2 separate regions of the Homo sapiens genome follow, and region 2 is linked to region 1. Evidence: fine-mapped expression QTL. Tissue or cell type: whole blood. Region 1 holds a variant in brackets; the other region holds the start of a gene. All regions are shown on one strand. Distances are between the middles of the regions.

What was found. PIP is the estimated chance that this variant, and not a neighbour inherited with it, causes the effect.
Region 2: CACUL1 starts here. The variant in region 1 is fine-mapped to the expression of CACUL1 in whole blood (TOPMed, PIP above 0.99).

The regions. Positions count from the first base shown.
Region 1 is chr10:118,668,930-118,679,212 of GRCh38, forward strand. It overlaps CACUL1 (CDK2 associated cullin domain 1), which reads right to left. Exons shown (of 9, transcript NM_153810.5): 9 at 7,482-10,283. Among named protein-coding and RNA genes, the nearest start is that of PRLHR, 78 kb to the left of the region's middle. The variant T/G (reference allele first, on the strand shown) is at 5,655.
Region 2 is chr10:118,749,342-118,759,624 of GRCh38, forward strand. It overlaps CACUL1 (CDK2 associated cullin domain 1), which reads right to left and starts at 5,629. Exons shown (of 9, transcript NM_153810.5): 1 at 5,055-5,629. The coding sequence starts at 5,421. LOC107987151 (a long non-coding RNA gene) reads right to left here and starts at 10,108. Exons shown (of 2, transcript XR_001747604.3): 1 at 9,292-10,108; 2 at 8,412-9,245. RefSeq lists enhancers at 5,558-5,697, 5,696-5,990.

The sequences.
Region 1 (10,283 bases):
GTTTCTGAGCAGATGAGGAAGAAGGAGGGTGGAACTCTAGCTCCAACTCTGCTCCCTGACCTAAGTATCCCAACCCCTCCCAGGTTGGGGACAGAGCCCTTCCATCACGTAGCTCTCGGTCCCACCGGACTCTTTGCTTAGGAAGAGGCTGCCTGCCCCCATCGTGGTTAGGTGCTAACTCATTCTCTGCTTTATCTATCACATCTCTAACTGCCCATCAGAGCCCATTAGACCAGAATGAGACTCCCAGGGTGGCCGCAGAGCAGCAGCATTTCAGCTCATCAGAGGAAGCTGCCAAATGAGCCAGTCTGAGCAGCATTTGGGGGTAGATGTTCGCTTCCTATTAACAGGCTAAATTGCGGAAGTGGCTCAGAGTTTCATTCCCACTGTGCCACTCCCTGGGGTCTGCAGCGTGGCCTGGGAGAAAAAGGCACAGCCTCGGGGTCAGACCCGAGTTGGACCCAGCTCTGTCCCCTGGTACCTGAGGGACTCTGGATAAATTACTGGATTTCTCTGAACTCCACTTATCCCATTTGTAAAACAGGATTAGAAGCCCCGCCATGGGACTGTTTTGGTCATTAAATGCCAATTTGTATATAAAGTGCTTAGCGCAAGCCTGACGACAGAAACACTCGGTAATTGAAAGCTACTGTTTTTCCACAAGGACTTCCTTTCAGGGACCGCAGCCTTGGACGGAGGCCTGGGTACAGATTTAATCAGATGCAGGCGCTCCGGATTACCATGGAGATCGTCTAATCTAATACGTGGAGGCTGCTCAGTGACTGTTTATTGAGTTAAAAGAAAACACAAATCTAATTTTAGCCCAAAGAAGAGAAAGTTAAAAGGGAACTTGAACAGGCTTTGGCTAGACAGTATAATAATTACTGCTGTTTTTTTCAATACTTACTAAGTGATAACTGTTTTCCTTTAAAGAGAAAAGTCATCTAAATAATCATAGCTACTATTATTGTCTGTAATGTTAGTGCTAACCCATTTCTAGTAGAGGGCACCCCCAGCTTATGGGTGGGGGATGGAGACTTCTGTAGGCAGAGACAGAGTTTTAGAGGCCTGTGCTCCTAACCAGCACCCATGCTGAACCCCGGAAAGATGATGTGACAGCATCCAGCTCTCACTCCTCTCTGTCTCACTCAGAGGAAGGGGACAGAGAGGCGGCAGCCCTCCAAGAAGGCAGATGCCATGGTGCTGTCCCAACAGCTGCTGGCAGTGTCAGAGGGGACGGCCCTGAGGACAATAGGGGTCCTCAGGGTGGGGGTGTTGCCAAAGGAGATTAACATTTGAGTTAGTGAACTGGGAAAGGCAGACCCACCCTCAATCTGGGTGGGCACCTAGCAGTGCCACCAGTGTACCCGATGTCCCCCTGGAGTCAGATAGCCCTAGTAGGACACAGCAACAAACCTGGCATGGAGAATGGAGGGAGCAGCAGCACAGACCCCAGGGACATGAGAAATAAGATGCCAGGCACAAAGCAAGGACCTGCTCAATAGGGGCCTCATTTAGAGAACAAAAACTGAGGCCTGAGATTCAGTGTCCTGCTCAGGACCCAGTGAAGCAGGGTGGGAGCGGAGGCTCCCTTCCAGCAGATCCTGTGACCAGTGATCAGAGGACCACCCTCGCCCCTGCCCATTCCAGCCATTAGAACCTGTGGTGTGTGGGCAAGGGTCCCCAAACAGGGCCCGTCACCTGCCCACCCACTCCCAGAAGGCCACCAGTGCTCTCACAGGCTGAGGGCCAGGGCCAAAGCTGCCAGGCTGGCCCTGTGAGCTCCTGCTGCAGTGGCGGCAGAAATCCACCTGCTGCAGTCTGGATATGGGAAATGCATTTTTCACCCCATCAGGCATCAGGGCGAAAGCAATTTACAAATGGTCAGCTGGGGGAGAGACGCGGCCAGCAGTGTTTTGTAGTCCATTAAAAGGTTTGGACCGGGGCTTTGAGAGATGTGCCAGCAACTGTGCAGAGGCATTCATTCACCAGACCCTGCTCATGCAGCTCACTTTGGAGCTGGGCAAGGACCCCCGGGATGCCAGTCAGTGTAAGAGGACACCTGGGTTTCTCTGCTGGTGGGTCATCGGGGATCAAGGGCTCTGTATTAGTTAGGGTTCTCTGGAGAGACAGGACTAATAGGACAGATGTATATACGAAAGGGAGTTTATTAAGGAGTATTGGATCACACCATCACAAGGTGAAGTCCCACAATAGGCCATCTGCATGCAATCTGAGAAGCAAGGAAGCCAGTCCGCGTCCTAAAAACCTCACAAGTAGGGAAGCCGACAGTGCAGCCTTCAGTCAGTGGCTGAAGGCCTGAGAGCCCCTGGCAAACCACTGGCATAAGTTCAAGAGTCCAAAAACTGAAGAACTTGGAGTCTGATGTTTGAGAGAAGGCAGCATTCAGCATGGGAGAAAGATGAAGGCCAGAAGACTCAGCCAGTCTAGTCCTCCCACATTTTCGGCCTGCTTTTATCTAGCCGTGCTGACAGCTGATTAGATGGTGCCCACCCAGATTGAGGGTGGGTCTGCCTCTCCCAGTTCACTAACTCAAATGTTAATCTCCTTTGGCAACACCCCCACAGACACCCGCAGGAACAATACTTTCAACCTTCATTCCAATCAAGTTGACAATATTAACCATCACAGGCTCTTAGGGACTGTGTCCCTGGGCACTCTACCCCAGGAACTCTAGACTAAGGATCAGCCTAGACAGTCTCCCCCTTTTTTTTCCTAAAGAGAAAATGCAGAGGGAAGAAACCAGCAAGCCACCATCTCATAAATGTATTCATTTGTTTACCACTGTTTTAGAAATGCTCAAAGCAGCTAACGAAGACTTCACTTATGAGGAAGGGATTACATGCAAAGCAAGAACACACAGGGGATCCTCTGGGGGTCTTAGGGCATGTGGGCTGCAAGCGGCAAACACTGACTGTCACCCCTTACAGTGAAAAGGAAAGACCATTGAGGTGCTACAGCCTTTGGAAGGGTAAGGATCAGACAGCCCCAGCACCAGCTCCGGGTGTCTCTGCTCTTGGGAAGGGCCAGCTCCTGCCTTTTGAGGACTTCAAATTGCCCCATACATAATTCCAGCTCCAGGAGAGGGGCCTGATTGGCTCAGGTACATTCCCATCTGCTAGCTGAAGAAGGCAGGACGCCTTCACCAGCAGTCCCTGCACCTACCTCCGCCCAGGACTATGTTGAACAGACAGAAGCAGTTCCCCCAAGAAAATTATATAAAGAAGTGCAAATGGCAGCTGAGCAGGCCAAAGCAACAGTGTTCACTACCATGGGCCAGTTTTTTTTTTTTTTTTTAATAGATGAGACTGGAAGTCAGAGTGGCTCAGTGACTTAATAATGGCGGAGCCAAAATTCTGTCTGATCCGATTCCAGGATGAGCTCTCCCTGCAATAGCATTCAGCCGCCTCGAGTATATCTGACCTTGGCCTGAGTCTCCTTCTCTCTGAACAGCATATGATGATTAGCCACTTGATATGGTCTGGCTGTGTCCCCAGCCAAATATAATCTTGAATTCCCCCATGTTGTGGGAGGGACCCAGTGGAAGGTGACTGAATTAGGGGAGCGGGTCTTTCCTGCGCTGTTCTTCTGATAGTGAATGAGTCTCCAGAGATCTGATGGTTTTAAAAATAAGAGTTTCCCTGCACAAACTCTTTGCCTGCTGCCATCCATGTAAGACGTTGACGTGCTCCTCCTTGCCTTCCACCATGATTGTGAGACTTCCCCAGCCACATAGAACTGTAGTCCAATTAAACTTCTTTTGTAAATTGCCCAGTCTTTGGCAGTAGCGTGAAAATGGACTAATGCGCCACTCAATTGTGTCTTCTGGATCATTATTTTAGCTTAGGGAGTCAGTGGTCCTGCTGAGAGATCTTGCTCTTGACAGCCCTGTTGGGTCCCTTTCCCCACAATGTGTCCCAAAAGTCTGGCCTTGCACTTCCCAAATGCTGGGGCACTAGACTGGGCTCTGTCTGCAGGCCCAGAGGCTACCCAGAGCTTAGGGAGCCCTATCCAACAGAGAACGCTGCTAACAGCCCACAGCCACCCTCAGCAGAGACCCTCAGACAGTCCACAGGCTCTGCTGAGAATGACACTGTTTGGGCATAAGGAGGCCGAGTTATGGCCCTTGGTCTCTTCTGCCATCCAGGGAGCTGAGCCACAGTGCAGCAGACTGATCTGCTGCCATAGGAATTGGGCACTCACTGGGCACATGCTCTGTGCCAGGCCATGTGTTATGGTTATATCTTGAAGCCCTTACATCAACCACTGACAGTGAGCAATTGTTCAGGACCAGTGATTGTTCATGTCTGTGAGTTCCAGCTTTCTCAATGGAAAATGAGGCTGTTGTGAGTTGAGACGATAGGCATAGAGTGCTTTGTACAGTGCCAGGCGCACAGTAAGCGCTTGGTAACTACTCCGGGGGAGTAGTTACAGTAGTGGTAGCTGCTGTTATTCTGAGATCTGAAGGCTGGGAAACATCTAGCCAGGGAAAAACTGAAAGCATGAGTGAAAGCGTACTACGGTTTCACAGCGGAGTAAACTGAAGCTCAGAGAGCTGAGTGACCTGCCCAGGGAGAGACAGCTCAACAGGGCCTGAAGCCAGCTGGCCCCAAAGGTATCAAGTCTGAAGCATCTGTTCTTTCAATTGCACTGTGCTGCCTCCAAAGTCCTGATCAATGCCATTTGCTTGTTCCCTTCACCTCTGAATCTCCACGTACCTTCACGTCTCCTGCCCATGAGGGCTCTCCTGGGCCCTGGCCTGAGGTGCCCTGCCCAGCTAAACGGCCCTGGTGCCCTAAGGCATCCATTATATGTAATTTCGCTCCTGTGCATCTAAAAGCTGTTTACCATCCTTGGGAAAAGTGACAAAAATTATTCAAACACCCTTTTCTGCAGAGCTTTATTCATGAAGCCCCGGCTGAAAAGGCTCTCTCTGAAGTTATTATGGTCATGGATGGCTTCACCACCACTGCCGGGGGAGGTATGATTAGTGAGGTCTTAAGAACAGCCCTGCTAGGTCTAACAGAGGCCCACAGTCCAGTGTTCACCTGTACCAGAGGCTGCCAAGAGGGAGGACTGAGCAGTAAAGCAAATCACCTTGTAGATGGGGGTTCAAATCTTCCATTGTGTGATTTGGGGCAGGTTATTTAAATCTGACATCTGGGCTGTTTCATCTTGTAATAGTTGTATTGTTGTGTAACAAATTACTCACAAAATTTAGTGGCTTAAACCAGCACACGGTTATTCCAGAGTTTCCCTGGGTCAGGAGTCTGGGCACAGCTTAGCTGAATTCTCTGTCTCAGGCTTTGCCGCTAGGCTGTGATCAAGGTGTCAGCCAGGGCCACAGTCATCTCAAGATTCAACTGGACCAACATCCATTCCAAGTTCACTCGGACCGTCAGCAGGATTTACAGCCCCTCGGGCTATTAGATTGAAGGCCTCAGTTCCTTGGTAGCTGTTGGCTGGATGCCACCCTCAGTTCCTTGCCCAGTGGCCCTGTCAAGTGAAAGCTGAGGAGAGAACACAGGCAAAATGACGAGTCTTCTGTAACCTAATCACAGAAGTGACAGCCCATCACCTGGGCCACAGTATTTTCAACAGAAGCAAGTTGCTGGGTCCAGCCCACACTCAAG[T/G]TGAGGGGATTACATTAAGGGTGTGAATGCGGGAGTGGCAGTCACTCGGGTCGTCTCAGAACGGCTCACCATACATCTGTAGAGTGCCACGAGTCACTGCCTCACTGGATTGCTCCTAAGATGTGCGTGAAACACCTCCCATGCAGACAGGTATCCAGTGAAGAGCAGCTGTCACTGTGTCACATGTGCTCAGATGACATCTATTTCCTTTCCCCAATGCTGTCTGAGCTGTCTTAGGGACAAGATTGTTCACCAAACACTATCTCAACAAGCAAGGCCCTATTTTTACTTCCTAACACCTTGTTACATACCACCATCCTGCTTAGCTTTGTTTTGGGTGAATCTGGACATACCCAAGAAAAAATTTTCCTTTTCAGACAGGGACTTTTTCTTTCGCCTATGCTAATGTAAGCTCTTTGTCTTCTTTAATCATAGCTCCCTGGCTATTCTAGTCAGGAGGGTGACTATTCTGTGTTGTTTATAGATTCTAGGAGAAATCATCTACCATGACTGTCAAAGCAAAGCACCTTGGTTAATCCTGAAGAGCAGATATGTTGTGTAAAAACAAAGTTGATGTGGAGTCAAAGTTTGGTTTTCCCATCTCCCAAAGGCTCCCAATGGACAGCTGTCACAGACCTACGTAGTGGACTCACGTAACCAAGAGTCACTAGCAGCCTTTCACCGTCCTGAGACCCAGCTTTTTCCAGACAGCCCCACCTCCTTAACCCAATGTGGGCTTGAGCCAGGTCCCAGCCCCAGGAGGGTAGATCTGTTTGGTCTAAGTCTACCATGGTGGTCCCATTCTCCTCCTCAGTTATCCCAATGCCCCTCAATGAAAACCGAAGGGAACTGCGCTGGTGTGGCTTCAGGGAAGTTACACTGCTCTTAAAAGAGACATGCTGGGGAACAGAGGCCCTCTGCTTCAACTGGTTGTTGTCATTCTGACAACTGCAGCAGTCAAGTAAAGACCTTGAAGGAAGCAACACTGAGCACAAAGTGAACATAATGAGGCTGGCAGAGCAGAAAGCAGGAAGAAATCCAGGTCCTGGACATCAATTAGCTGTTGTATTTATCAGCCCTGGAACTGCCCAACCTTGAGACTTCTGTGAAGTGATGTCTCCCTCACTGTTTAAGCCAGTGATCTCCAAAGTGAACAAGGTGATCCACTGAGGTACAGGAAGAAAACAGAAGTTATGTTTTTAAGAGTAAAGAAGCCTTACCAATACATAACAGACACACAGGCTGCATGGCAAGTGGTCAGGCAGCACATGCCAGTCAGTGAGGAATCCTCAAGGAGTGCTGAGAGCTCCATGTTGCAGAGAGAGCAACAGCGGCACCACTCTCTTCCAGAATATTGTCATCTGTGTGCCCCATAAGCCAACTGGACTTAGATTTTTATTATCTTACACAAAAGCATCTTGACAACAGTTTATAATGAGATGAGGAAATTAAACCCTCAAATTTGCCGGTTATCTCATAGCAAAATTCTTAAATATGGTATTTTTTTAATTGATAAAAAGACTTGAATGTGCCAATCTTTCCTGTGGTGACAAGTGTCTGTAATCAATATGCAATCTAGAAAGTATTTTTTTAAATGGACAGATTTAAACTGACCCTTCAAGGTAAAGATAACATTTAATACTAACGATGACCGAGCAAGAATTCATGAAAATGTGTTGCCAAAAATTGTCACCTATAAAAACTCTTCAAAGTGTACACTTAAACTTGGGAAATGAAATTCAAAAATAAGTTACAGCAGGTTTTGAACCCATCTGTTAGCAAAAATAAAAATGCAACACTCCTAATTATTCAGCAAAAACAAGTTACTGACATTGGAAAAGATGAAAATTTATTATAAAAATTTCAACAACACACTTTTGCAAAATTGGTGGATGGAACTCAAAAATATTTTCAGTAAGCACAGCCATATTTGGATCCACAGATCTTAATTAATGAAGTGACTTATTCAGCTACAATAGTCATTAAAACCAAGCATGAAAATAAACTTACCTTAAGAACATTAAGTTGTTTTTATAAAGTGTTAAAACTAGGAGTTTCAAAAATGACAAGCATTTTTAATCATGACTCTCTCTAAAAGAACATTTTTTTAGAAAGAGCAAAGGTTTATTAACCACAAATACCACAAACAATATTTTAAAACATTTTTACTTCATCTTTTTGATTTTCTACTTTTGCTTTATATGTATTGGTAACATATGTTCAAATTTAAACATTTTAAAATATATATGTCTATGTACACACACACACACACACACACACACACACACACTGGGGTGTGCACACTACGGCATTAAAGGCAGGTGAGTGAGTTTAATAGGGTTTTCGGTTTCATTGCTTGTATTCTTAGAAAAAACTTCTCCAATCCCAAGAAAAAATACTACTTTCTAGTTTTTACAACATTTTTTTCTTTTTTAGTTCACAATCTGGAATTTCTCTTGGTGAATGGTATGATAGGAATCAGTTTAATGTTCTCTAATTATACCAGCACCTTTCATAAAATAATTGACCATGGACAGCATGATTTCAAAAAGCCGCCTTTAGTGTACTCTAAATTCTAAATTTGAGTTTTCTATTTTCTAAATTACCTTCCATTGACTTATCTGTTTACCCTGGCATAAGTCTTTTAATTTAATTGCACTTAGAAAGTGATTTTTTTTGGTACAGCAAGTTCCTTCCATTTTCTTCACTTTCAATGGGGATTTTCCTATTTTCATCTGTTTATACTTCCATGAGTTTTTTAGATTATATAAATACTGTTGGTTATCTGAATTGGCTTTACACTGAATATACATTAACTCAGAGAACTGGCATGTTTAGAATGGTCCAAACGTTCATATTATGAAGTGCTTCCAAGTCCCCGTTCTCCCCTCTGTTCTCATTCCCCTCCACCACCCTCTCCTGAGGAAACTATGTTCCTGAATGTTAATAACTGTCTTTCCTTTATAGCTTTACTACTTGTGTCTGAGTCCCTAAACAATATACTTAGTTTTTTCTGATTTTGAACTTTACATAAAGGTACCCATGCTGGCTCTATTCTGACTTCACTCAATGATTTCTGAGATGCATCCATGTTGAAGCCCGCAGTGGTATGATGCCTTGACCACTCTAGAGAATTCCACAGCATACACTTCATTTATTCACTGTATGCTAGATGGGCATTTGGCTCCCTCCTTCATTCCTTTTAATTATTACACATAATGCTGTTATAAACATCCCTGTATACGTTTCTTGGTACACATGCACATGAGTTTTTCTAAGTATAAATAGTGGGCTATTAAGAGGTGCCTATGCTCAATTTCATTAGATAATACTGTTCTCCAAAGTAGAAGTGCAGATTTACACGCCAACAACAGGTGAAGGTTTGTTGTCATAAACTCTCAGATTGTTATTTTCAGACTTCTCATAATTTCTGCCAAGTTGTCAGCAAGGAAATGGTATCTATGCTTTTAATGTGCATTACCTGACGACTAATGAGGCTGAACATCTTTTCACATTTATGGGCCATTTCTGTTTCTTCTGTGAAATGCCTGCTAGTGTTTGGGGTCCGTCTCTCCTGAGTTGTTTTCATTGCTGATTTGCATTCAGGTGCTCTTTAGCAGTTATATTATGAATATTTGTATCTTATTCCAGATTTGGCTTCTCTTTTCACTCTACAGCATGTTTGGTAATAAGTACTTACAATCAATGGTAGCCAAATTACTTATCTACTGATAGTCTGCATTTTCTATCTTGTTGATGAAATTCTTCCCTACTCCAAAGTCATTGTTTTAATCACTACCTTTGGCAGTAAGTGTTAGAATCTTGTAGTGCTAGTTCCCCTCACAATCCATTCAGAAAGGTCTTGGATATCCTTGGCCCTTTGCTCTTCCATTTATATCGACGAATCAAATTGTCAGGTTCCACAGTGAAAATCATTGGGAATTTTTTTGGAATTGCAATTTGGAGAAAAAGTTGAGATTTAGATAATATTGAGTGTTATCCCTTATATTCTCTACACTTATTTAGGTCCATTAAGTTTTTTTTTTATCATTTTCTCATTTTAAAATTTATTCTTAGGTACTTTTTCTTGTCCTATTATAAACAGCATTTCTTAATTACATTAAAAAGCCAATCTTGTATTCCTGAGACCAATCCATTTTGGTCATCATTTGTTACATTTTGAATACACTGTTAGACTTGGTTTGCAAAAACTTATTTTCCTACTGAAGGGTACAATGTGTTTTATGTATGTGTGTGTTATGTATCTGTCAGATCAAATTGATTAGCTGTACTATTTAAATCTTCTATGTCCTTAATAATCTTCATAATTTAGTCTCTGCAAGATCTATTAATTACTGAGAGGGGTATGTTGAAAATGCCCATTATGTTGGTAGACTGACCTATTTCTCTTTGTAGTGTGTTCATTTTTCCTTTTTGTAGTTTTCTTTTAACTTTTTAAATATTTTTCTCGACAGGGTCTCACTCTGTTATCCTAGCTGAAATGCAGTGGTATCATCATAGCTCAATGCAGCCTCAAACTCCTGGGCTCAAGCAATCCTCCTGCCTCACACCTTAGCCTCCAAATAACTAGGACTAAAAGCAGGTACCACCACGCCCAACTTTTTTTGT
Region 2 (10,283 bases), 80 kb after region 1:
CTTGGATTTCTGGTGGCTTGGATCTCCCTCATGGTGGCTAACCATGATATCCTTAGGAAAACAAAGGCAATATACTGGGGTATTACTTGATCTGTTATAATGGACAGAAAAGAAAAACTCTAGATATATTAAACAGAGGTCTCACCTAAGTGGCATAATGGAAAGCCATGTAACCTCACCTAAAACCCACAATGAGCCTATTCACAGACACAGAAATGCTGGAATAAAGAAGAGGATGAGTTCCACTGAGGAAGAACCCCACATAATTAAAGTCTTCCTCCTAGCCTTTTCCAATAGAACATGCAGGTATTTATTAGGGAGATAGTACATTTGGGAAATGGAAATCACTGAGACTTTTCAAAGATTAATAAACACTGGCTCTAAGCCAATACGAACCCTAAGAGACAGGAACGTCACTATGGTAAACCAGGCAGATCAGGGGCTTATGGACGTCACATAAATGGTGTTTTGGCCTCAATCCATCTCACAGTAGGGCTGGTGGACCCGTAGTAACACTGTAACTCCCCCAGTTCTGAAACTAGTTCATGGTTCCCTAACCTGTGAAGTCAGGAATATCAACATAGGAAGGGCTAGATGTACCCTTTCCTACCAAAGTAATAAACTCGAAGCAACAAACAACACATCTCTGTGGGAACTATAGAAAACACTATCAATGTCAAAGACTTTAAAAATAAGAAAGGAGGGCCGGGCGTGGTGGCTCACGCCTGTAATCCCAGCACTTTGGGAGGCCAAGGCGGGTGGATGACCTGAGGTCAGGAGTTTGAGACCAGCCTGACCAACATGGTGAAACACATCTCTACTAAAAATACAAAAATTAGCCGGGCATGGTGGTGCACACCTGTAATCCCAGCTACTCAGGAGGCTGAGGCAGGAGAATTGCTTGAATCCGGGAGGCGGAGATTGCAGTGAGCTAAGACTGCACCACGGCACTCCAGCCTGGCGACAGAGCGAGACTGTCTCAAAAAAAAAAAAGGAATGGTGATAATTATGACATTCTTATTTCATGGGTCTGTTTGGCCAGAGCAAAAGAGATGAGTCTTGGAGCATGACTGTGGATTATCATCGATCAAATCCAAAGTGACTCCAATTTTAGTTGCTGTTCCAGACATGGTCTCTTCACTGTGACAAATCAACACCATCCCTGGCACCTACCATGTATCCATCAAGATAATAAATGCTTTTTATCTCTGTCCCAAAACTAGAAACCAACAGAAGCTGTTTTCACCTTACAGTCTAAAGTATACCTTCACTGCCATAGCTGAGGGATACATTAACGCGGCAGCTATCTTCCACTATCTGGTCCACAGAGACTTCGGACATCTCAACATCTCACAAGTTCACTACACTGCTATTCCCACAAGCAAGTATACGTTTTCCTGTATTACCATATCCCCATTGCACTTGGCACTATTCATTCAGCTTTCTAATTTTTGTCAACCTAAAGGTGGAAAAAGACATTCCGTTACTATTTTATTCTTTAATTTTTGTGGGTATATAGTAGGCATATATTTTTATGAGGTATATGGGATATTTTGATACAGGCATACAGTGTGTAATAATCCCATCAGGGAAAATGCGGTACCATCACCTCAAGCATTTATCCTTTGTTTTACAAACAATCCAATTATACTCTTTTCCATTACTATTTTAATATGCATGTCTCTGAATATTAATAAATTCATCTCTTCTTATGCTTTTTAGGGTTTCCTATTCTTTCTATAAGCTACTTATTAATATCCTTTGCCTATTTTTCTACAGAAGTTGCTGCCCTCTTGTTGATGTATAGTAAGTAGTCCCTTGTCTAGTCAGATCATCATCCCTTGTTAATTTTAGGCACTGTAAATATCTTCTCTAATTTTTTCATCTTTTGCCAAATGAATAATTTTCATATAATCAAAATAATTAATTTTTCACCTTTATAAACTTTTGAAGCTTTAAAAAGTACTTCCCTGTCCCTAGGGAAAGAGCTTAACATTTTCAATAATGTTAACTTTGGTTTTTCTTTTCACATTTAGGTCTTTAATTCATTTGGAGTCTATCCATTTATGATATTAAATTTATTTTTTCTCTATATAGTGAGTCACTCTCCCTAACAACATATGACTCCTTTCTCCAGTGGTTTATGATGCCACTTAAAAAGTTCCCAACTTTTATACATGTATCCAGGTAAGTCTCTGCCCTCCAATTTGTTTCCTTGGTCTATTTTTCTGTTCTCGCACTTACACCACTTTAACTACAGCCTTGACATCTTAACTTCTAATAAGGCAAGCCTCCCATCCCCAAACAAATCTTTAAGATTGATTCTGTTATTCACAAACTTTATCCCACACACCATATAAATTTTAGACTTAGGCTATTGAGTTTGTCAAACCAAATGTAATTTTGACGTCATTTAAACTGAATTTATAAATTGGAGAAAATTAGTATTCTTGTAAGTAATTTGATCCAAGAGCAAGGAAAATTGTACCATTTATTTAGATTATCCTCTAGTTTCTTTTTCAAGTTTTAAAGTTTCCTTTTTAAAGGTCTTGCGTATTCACGGGTTGATTCCTAGAGACTTTAGAGTTTTGTTGCTATTATTACATATAGTATTTACTTTTGATTATCTTTACTAGTTATCACTAGTTTAGTAAATGCTATCAAATTTTTGTAAGTTTATCTTAAATCCAGCAATCCTGCTAAACTCTTACTAGTTCTAAGTTTTCTCTGGATTTTAATGGTTCATCTAGGTAGGTGATCATATTATCTGCAAATAATAACTTTTATTGCTTCCCTTACAATCTTTATACCTTATTTTTTTGCTCCTTATAATGTTAGCCAGGACCTTCCTACAATGCTAAACAGTAGTAATGACAGGAGCATCCTTATCTTGTTACGGATCTTAAAGTATATGTATCTAAAATTTCTCCATTAAGTATTATTATTTACTGAAGGTTTTTGGTAATGACCTTTATCTAGTTATCTTGTACTCCTAGGTTACCAAGAGTTTTTATCATAAATAGCTGCTGGATCTAGTTGAATGATTTCAGGGCACCAATTGAGATAATCGTAATTTTTTTCCTTTAGTCTATTAAAGAGCTAAATTAGATAAGTAGATGTTAAACCATGCTTTCATCTCTAGGACTAACTCTATGGATCAGGACTCTGTAACACACTGTTGGATTTGATGAGCGAGTATTTATTCTGCAGTATTTTCATTTCTATGCTAAGTAAAACAGACCTATAATTTTCTCTTCTTACATGTCCTTATCTGTTTTAGAATCAAGATTTCACAAGCCTCATAAAATGAACTTGGTATTTTTTCTATTTTCCAGTGCAACTTGCAAAAAGAATTAAGTGTTAAAGTATGGTGGAACTCATCAGCGTATCTGGATGCAGAGCTTCTAAAAAGGGAGATCTTTACCATTTCAGTTTATTAGTTCAAGATATTTCTTCTGATACCAATTTTCACATTTACTAGTTTTCTAAGAACTATATTTTTCATTTAGGCTTTCAAATTCATCAGCCTAAGTTCATAACGTTCTTTTTTTAATCTGATATTTGTAGTTATTTTCCATTTTTCATTTATTTGCATCTTTTTTTCTTGTCGTTTTTATCAGAGGTCTGTCTGCCTAGCTTACTCATCTTTTCACAAAAATAATCTTTTGGTGTGACAAATCCTTTTGTTCTCAATTTTACTGATTTCTGTTCCTAACTTTATGCTCTTTTTTGAACTCTTCAAAGGAACTTTACTAAGGCAATCTTCCTTCGTGACTCAGGTGAAGTCATTCTGCCACTCTACAGGAGGTCTGGTTCCACAACACAGCCTTCAACACACAAACTATACAATATAAACATGATTATCATGAATAAGGAGAAAAAGCGTATATAATCTTACCAAACGTACATATCAATGTCTTTGACTAAGGCAGTATCTTGGGGCAAATAAAATTACGCGCTGTTCCCACACACAGTGTGTAAGATTCCGACTATCTGCATCAAGGCAAATATTTTCTCTGCACAGCTAACTGGACAAGTACAGCTTCATAAAATTAGTAGCTAGAAATGAACTCTCCAGTTGCTTTACCAGATGCCACTCAAAACTTGCAGTTAATAATAGGAGAGAAAAACCTGGCTGTGATGGTCACAATCATTTTCAACATCCTATCACCACCACCACCGCCACGCACACATACACACAAACCAAAGTAAAAGCACATTCTTTTCCTAGCTATGGAAGCATACATATATCCTGGTCAGAGGCAGTTTCGGATTACAAAACAGATTTTGGTCTTAAATCTTAATGCGTGCAATTGAGCGTTAAGACAGACTACTAACATAAAGTTCAACATGCAACCCAATCTTGGGTTTGGACACAAGACATAACCCATCCTGAAAGGCTTATTCTTATGAGTGTAAGCTCTGAAAAGTGATTTTATGCATTATTAGCTTCAAGACGATGTCGGAGCTGCCACTGCATCGGAAAGCAACTCATTATTTCCCTAGCAGGATGCAAAAGTGTAACACAGTAGAGAAGGAACAAGGTGTAGATATAGGTCAACTTTCAAATTCCTTACTTGTTTAACACAGCCTGGCCAAAAACACAAGAACACAAGTTGCCAGATTTCTTTTCTCTCTCTGGCTGCAGAAGACTGAAGGCCTTTCCCTAACGAGACTCAGGCAGCCTTATTTTCCCCTCACTTTGAGGGTGAAACTTCAAGAGAAGACGGGTGCGAAAAGAGCTTCCCAATGTTGAGAGACTGCCAGTTGTGATAGGGATCGCACTGACCGAACTTGGGGCTCCGTGTGTACCAGGCTGCCTCTCTAGGCCAGGTAATACAAGAAGCCAGGGCCGCTCAGGCGCTGGCCGCAGACACCAAATGAGGGGGAGGGGACGGTGAGGGGGAAGGAGGCAGGGAGGCGAAGGCGGACGGGGAGAAGAGGAAAGACCGAGGCCTGAAACAAAGGAAGCGGAGCTTTCTCCAAGAGGGGGTGGATTCGGCGTCCGAGTGAGGTGGAGAAAAGCCAAGGCTGCAGGGAAAGGCTGGACTCACAGAACTTGGAGGTGGAGGTGTTGATGTTGATGGTGGAGCTGGCGGTGGGGGCGGGGGCCGCCTTGGCCACGGCGGCGGCCGCGTCGCAGCTCTTCAACATCATGATCACCCCATTAGCCTCCGGCGGTGGCTGCGGCCCCATCGGGAGCCCCTCCTTGGGGCCTTTCCTGTCCACGGAGACCGCGGGCACCGCCAGCAGCTGCCCCCCCGGAGGCTCTCGGGCAGGGGCCGGGATCGACGAGGGGGGCGGCGGAGGTGGCAGGGGCTGCCGGAAGCCGTCCACCGCAGCCTCCCAGTTGTTGTGGTTCTGGTCGTCCATCATCGCCTCGTAGCTGCCCCCCTCCTCCTCTTCCATGCTTTCCTCCATCCTGCTGGCCCCCGGCACCCGCCCGCCTCACAGGCACCTGCCGCCTGTCTCAACCCCGGGCCAGCGGGCACCGCTGCCTCCCCGAGTTACATCGCCGGCGGCAGGAATGGGCGCAGCGGAGAGGGCTGCGGTGCGCAGGGTCTCTCGCTCTCCGCGGGGCCGACTAGCTTGAAGACGCGGCTGACGGCGGTGGGCGCTCCGGGGCTCTAGTCTGGGAGAGGCAGCCGTAAAGCAGCGGCGCTCCTCACGACGTTTTACAGCGGCTTCCAACAGGCAGTTGGAAAGGGCAGCTGGGGGCGCGGCCAGGAGGGCACGTGGTGCGAGGGACTGGCCGCGAGAAAGCGGAGCCAAAAGGGGCGGGAGCTGTGAGTCACTCCCACGCAACAGGGCAGAGGTTCGCCCCGCCTCGGCTGGCAGGGAGCTAACAGGGGAGGCGCGACGGGTCGGGACGGGCATTCGCCGGCCCCGCCCCCTGCCCGGCCTCACGTGACAAAGGTGTGTCTTGCGCACGCGCGTTCGCAATCTGGTTACCATGACGACGAGGCCCTCGCCGGTTCCTGAGGACGCGCGCGGAGCAGTCTTGGCAGTAGCTGTGGACTGGCCAGAGTGATTGGAGGTGTTTTCCTCGCGTCCTCCAAGTCTACGGGGCCTTCGCACCTCTGAGTGCCTGAGAGCCCCGGCTTTTGCTTGGGACGGAGGTACGGGACCACAAGAGGCCCCGGGGTCGCAGGTTATAAACGGATGAGACCGCCCTGGGCGGCCCGTGGTCCGACTGCTCTTGGGTCGGTCCCCAGCCGTCGCGACACACACGCACAAAATCGAGAATAAAAACCGAATCACACATAGCAGGATGGCGCAAAAAAGAAATGCGTTTGAGTTACTCATGTGTTTTTAAAATTCCTTTACGTTTGTATGCACTAAGGCCAGCAACCCAACTTTTAAAAATGCCGGCTCAGGCCGGGCGCGGTGGCTTACTCCTGTAATCCCAGCACTTTGGGAGGCTGAGGCGGGCGGATCACGAGGTCAGGAAATCGACACTATTCTGGCTAACACGGGAAACCCCGTTTCTACTAAAAATACAAAAAAGTTAGCCGGGCGTGGTGGCACGTGCCTGTTGTCCCAGCTAGCTGCTCGGGAGGCTGAGGCAGAATTGCTTGAACCCGGGAGGCAGAGGTTGCAGTGAGCCGAAATCGCGCCACTGCACTCCAGCCTGGGCAACAGAGCGAGACTCCATCTCAAAAAAAAAAAAAAAATGCGAGCTGGGCGCAGTGGCTCACGCCTGTAATTCAACCACTTGAGGAGACAGAGATGGGAGGCCCGCTTGTGCCCAGGAATTCGAGACCAGCCAGACCAGCATAACAAGACCACGCCTCTAAAAACAAAATTAGCCTGGCATGGTGGCGTGTGCCTGTGGTCCCAGCTACTCTGGAGGCTTAGGTGGATCACTTGAGCCCTGGAGGTCAAGGCTGCAGTGAGCCGAGATCGCGCAACTGCACTCCAGCCTGGGTGACAGAGTGAGACTGTCTCCAAAAAAAAAAAGAGAATTAAGTGGTATGCTGAAGGGGAAAACATAAAACCTTAGAATTACATGTGTGGCAAAAAGAGAGGCAGAAGGAAGGCAAATTCTGTTTCAAACAACTAATGGTTTATCATCAACAGACTCTAGGTAGATGGCTGGGTGAGTGCGATGGGATAAAGAAGGGTCTTTACATTTAAAAAAAAAGTCCAATATACAGGGAAGATAGAGTCAAAAAAGTGTCTCTAACATACTGTGTCATAAAGCAAGTCTTTACATATCTAAGGATTTATATCATAGCGACTATATGGCCACAAAATATATGAAGCGAAAATGAACAGAAGTATAAGAAGACAAAGAAATCTACCATCAGAGTAGGTGATTTTTCACTCCCTCTCTAATTGCAGTGAGTTGAATACAGCCTCCCACAAGATATGTCCATATCCTAATTCCTAGAACTTGCGAGTATGACCTTATTTGGAAAAACGGCGTTTGCAGATGTAATTAAAGTTCTTGAGATGAGAAGATCATCCTGGATTATCCAGGTGGGCCATCAATCCAATGATAGGTGTCTTTATAAAAGAGAGGTAGAAGAGAAGAGAAGGTAATGTAACCACAGAAGCAGAGATTGGAGTGATGGCATTCCCAAGTCAAGGAATGCTGACAGCACCCAAAGCTGGAAGAGACAAATTTTCCTCTTGAGCCTCTGGAGGGATTGTGACCCTGCCAACATGTAGATTTCAGACTTCTAGATGCCAGAACTGAGAATTCATGTCGGTTTTTTTAAGCCACCTATTGTGATAATTTGTTAAGCAACTGATTACAGGAAACTAATACATAGACCGAGGGGACCAAAAAAATCTTTAAGGTACTGGAAGAGTTGAGTAACACAATTACCAAGCTTAATCTAATATATATGTGTAGAATATTGCCTTAATGACCATAGAATACACACTCCTATCAAGAATATGCTAAACATTTACAAAAATTGAACATACTGTGTCATAAAGCAAGTCTCCACATATCTAAGGATTTATATCATAGTAACCACATTTTCTGGTCACTATATAGGTAAGTTAAAAATCAATAACCAAAAGGTAACTGGCAAGCCCCATATTTCCACTATTCCAATTAACTCATGGGTCATAAAATCATAATAGAAATTAGAAAACATTTAGAACTGATGGGCTTGGTACTAATCATAGCAATGTAACTTCCATCCTCTTGAGGGCCCTGCTCCAAGGGTTTTTACCCAGCACACTGATGAATACTGAACCTTTTGTGTGTGTGTTGTCAAAATGATCAATATAACAGCCATTTTTGCTGTAATTAAACTACTGTGACAAGACCTAATGACAGTTGAGCGAAACCAGTCACTGACAGGGGACAATTTCCCATAAGAAATCCTACTGAAGGGAAACCAAATGAACATATTGGTAACTGGTTGATTTTGTGGCATTATGAGACATTGTTATACTTTAGAGCATATTATATTTTAATAGTTATTAACATAAATCTTTGATTTGTTCTGGGTTGTGGAGATGGGGTATAACATTATTAGCAACATTTACCCAAAAACAGTGAACACAAGGTTAGTAGTTACTATGACGTTCCATAGTCGCAGATATTCATCTATTTGTTCGGTTTTTGTTTGTCTGTTTCTATTTCCCACTAGGCTGTGAATTTCATTAAAGCAGGATAAATATATGTGTAAAATTTCTGTGTAAGTTTGGATACATAAAGAGGAAACTAACTCAAAACTCAATAGCAGTTATCTAGGGATAGTGAGATTATGGATGGTCTTAATGTTCTTCTTTATATCTTTCAATGTTTTCTTGGTTCTCTACAATAAGTATGTATTATTTTTATAATCAGAAAAGAATTCTGAAACTTAAAGATTAACAAATAAAAACGTTAAGTATAAATTGGGATTCCATAGGCTAAAATGTTTGTTTTGGCTTCCAGAAGCAAAAACTCAAATAAAAATTGCTTTAAAATCAAGGCTGTTCATTGGCTAAGAGACTGAGAAGGTCTAGGAATGGTGGAGGTGAGGCAGGGCTCAGCCATTACTGAGCTCTGCTTCTCTGTGGTGTTGTCTTGTTCTCTCTTGTGCATGTTTCACCCTTAGGCTGCCTACAAAATGCCTGCCACAGCCCCTGGCCTCAGGTCTATGGACAAGAAGTCAAGATGAAAAGGGCCTGTGAATTCTGGTAGCTTTCTATTATGAGAAAATTCCCAGAAGCCCTCAGGAAACTTCCTCACAGTGTCTCATTGGTCCATTCCTAAACCAATCACATGGCACTTAGACCTGGATTCCAGAGCCCTTTACTGGAAAGGGTATGGACTCATTAGACCTGGATTCCAGAGCCCTTTACTGGAAAGGGTATGGATTCATTCCTGGAAAATAAAGCCCATTCCTGGAACTTAGCATGGGATCAGCTTCTCCCTAAGTACATTGGCTGAGAGGGGAAGGAGTGGCTAGAAGAACAAATATTGGAGTCAATCGGGAATGTTTAAAGTGCTGGGTAGGCTACAATTCCATTATAGGCCAAAGTATGGAATCCCCTAGAACTCCTATTACCTAACCTTACCCCAGCCTCTCCACTACCTGCCCTTCATAAATGCCTCCCTAATCAATATATCTATGCAAAATTATGTACATACTGATTAGAATCAAGAAAGACATAACCGGCCAGGCAGTGTCTGATATCTGTAATCCCAACACTTTGGGAGGCCAAGGCGGGTGGATCACCTGAGGTCAGGAGTTCAAAACCAGCCTGGCCAACGTGTTGAAACCCTGTCTCTACTAAAAATACAAAAATTAGCTGGACGTGGCGGCATGCACCTGTAATCCCAGTGTGTCCAGAATTGGTGGGTTCTTGGTCTCACTGACTTCAAGAATGAAGCTGCAGACCCTCGCAGTGAGTGTTGCAGCTCTTAAGGTGGCACGTGTGGAGTTTGTTCCTTCTGATGTTCGGATGTGTTCGGAGTTTCTTCCTTCTGCTGGGATCATGGTCTCGCTGGCTCAGGAGTGAAGCTGCAGACCTTCACAGTGAGTGTTATAGCTCATAAAAGCAGTGTAGACCCAAAGAGTGAGCAGCAGCAAGATATATTGCAAAGAGTGAAAAAACAAAGCTTCCACAGTGTTGAAAGGGACGGGGGCGGGTTGCCACTGCAGGCTCCGGCAGCCTGCTTTTATTCTCTTATCTGGCCCCACCCCCATCCTGCTGATTGGTCCATTTTACAGAGAGCCGAGTGGTCTGTTTTGACAGGGCACTGATTGGTGCGTTTACAATCCCTGAGCTAGACACAAAGGTTCTCCAAGTCCCCAATAGATTAGCTAGAT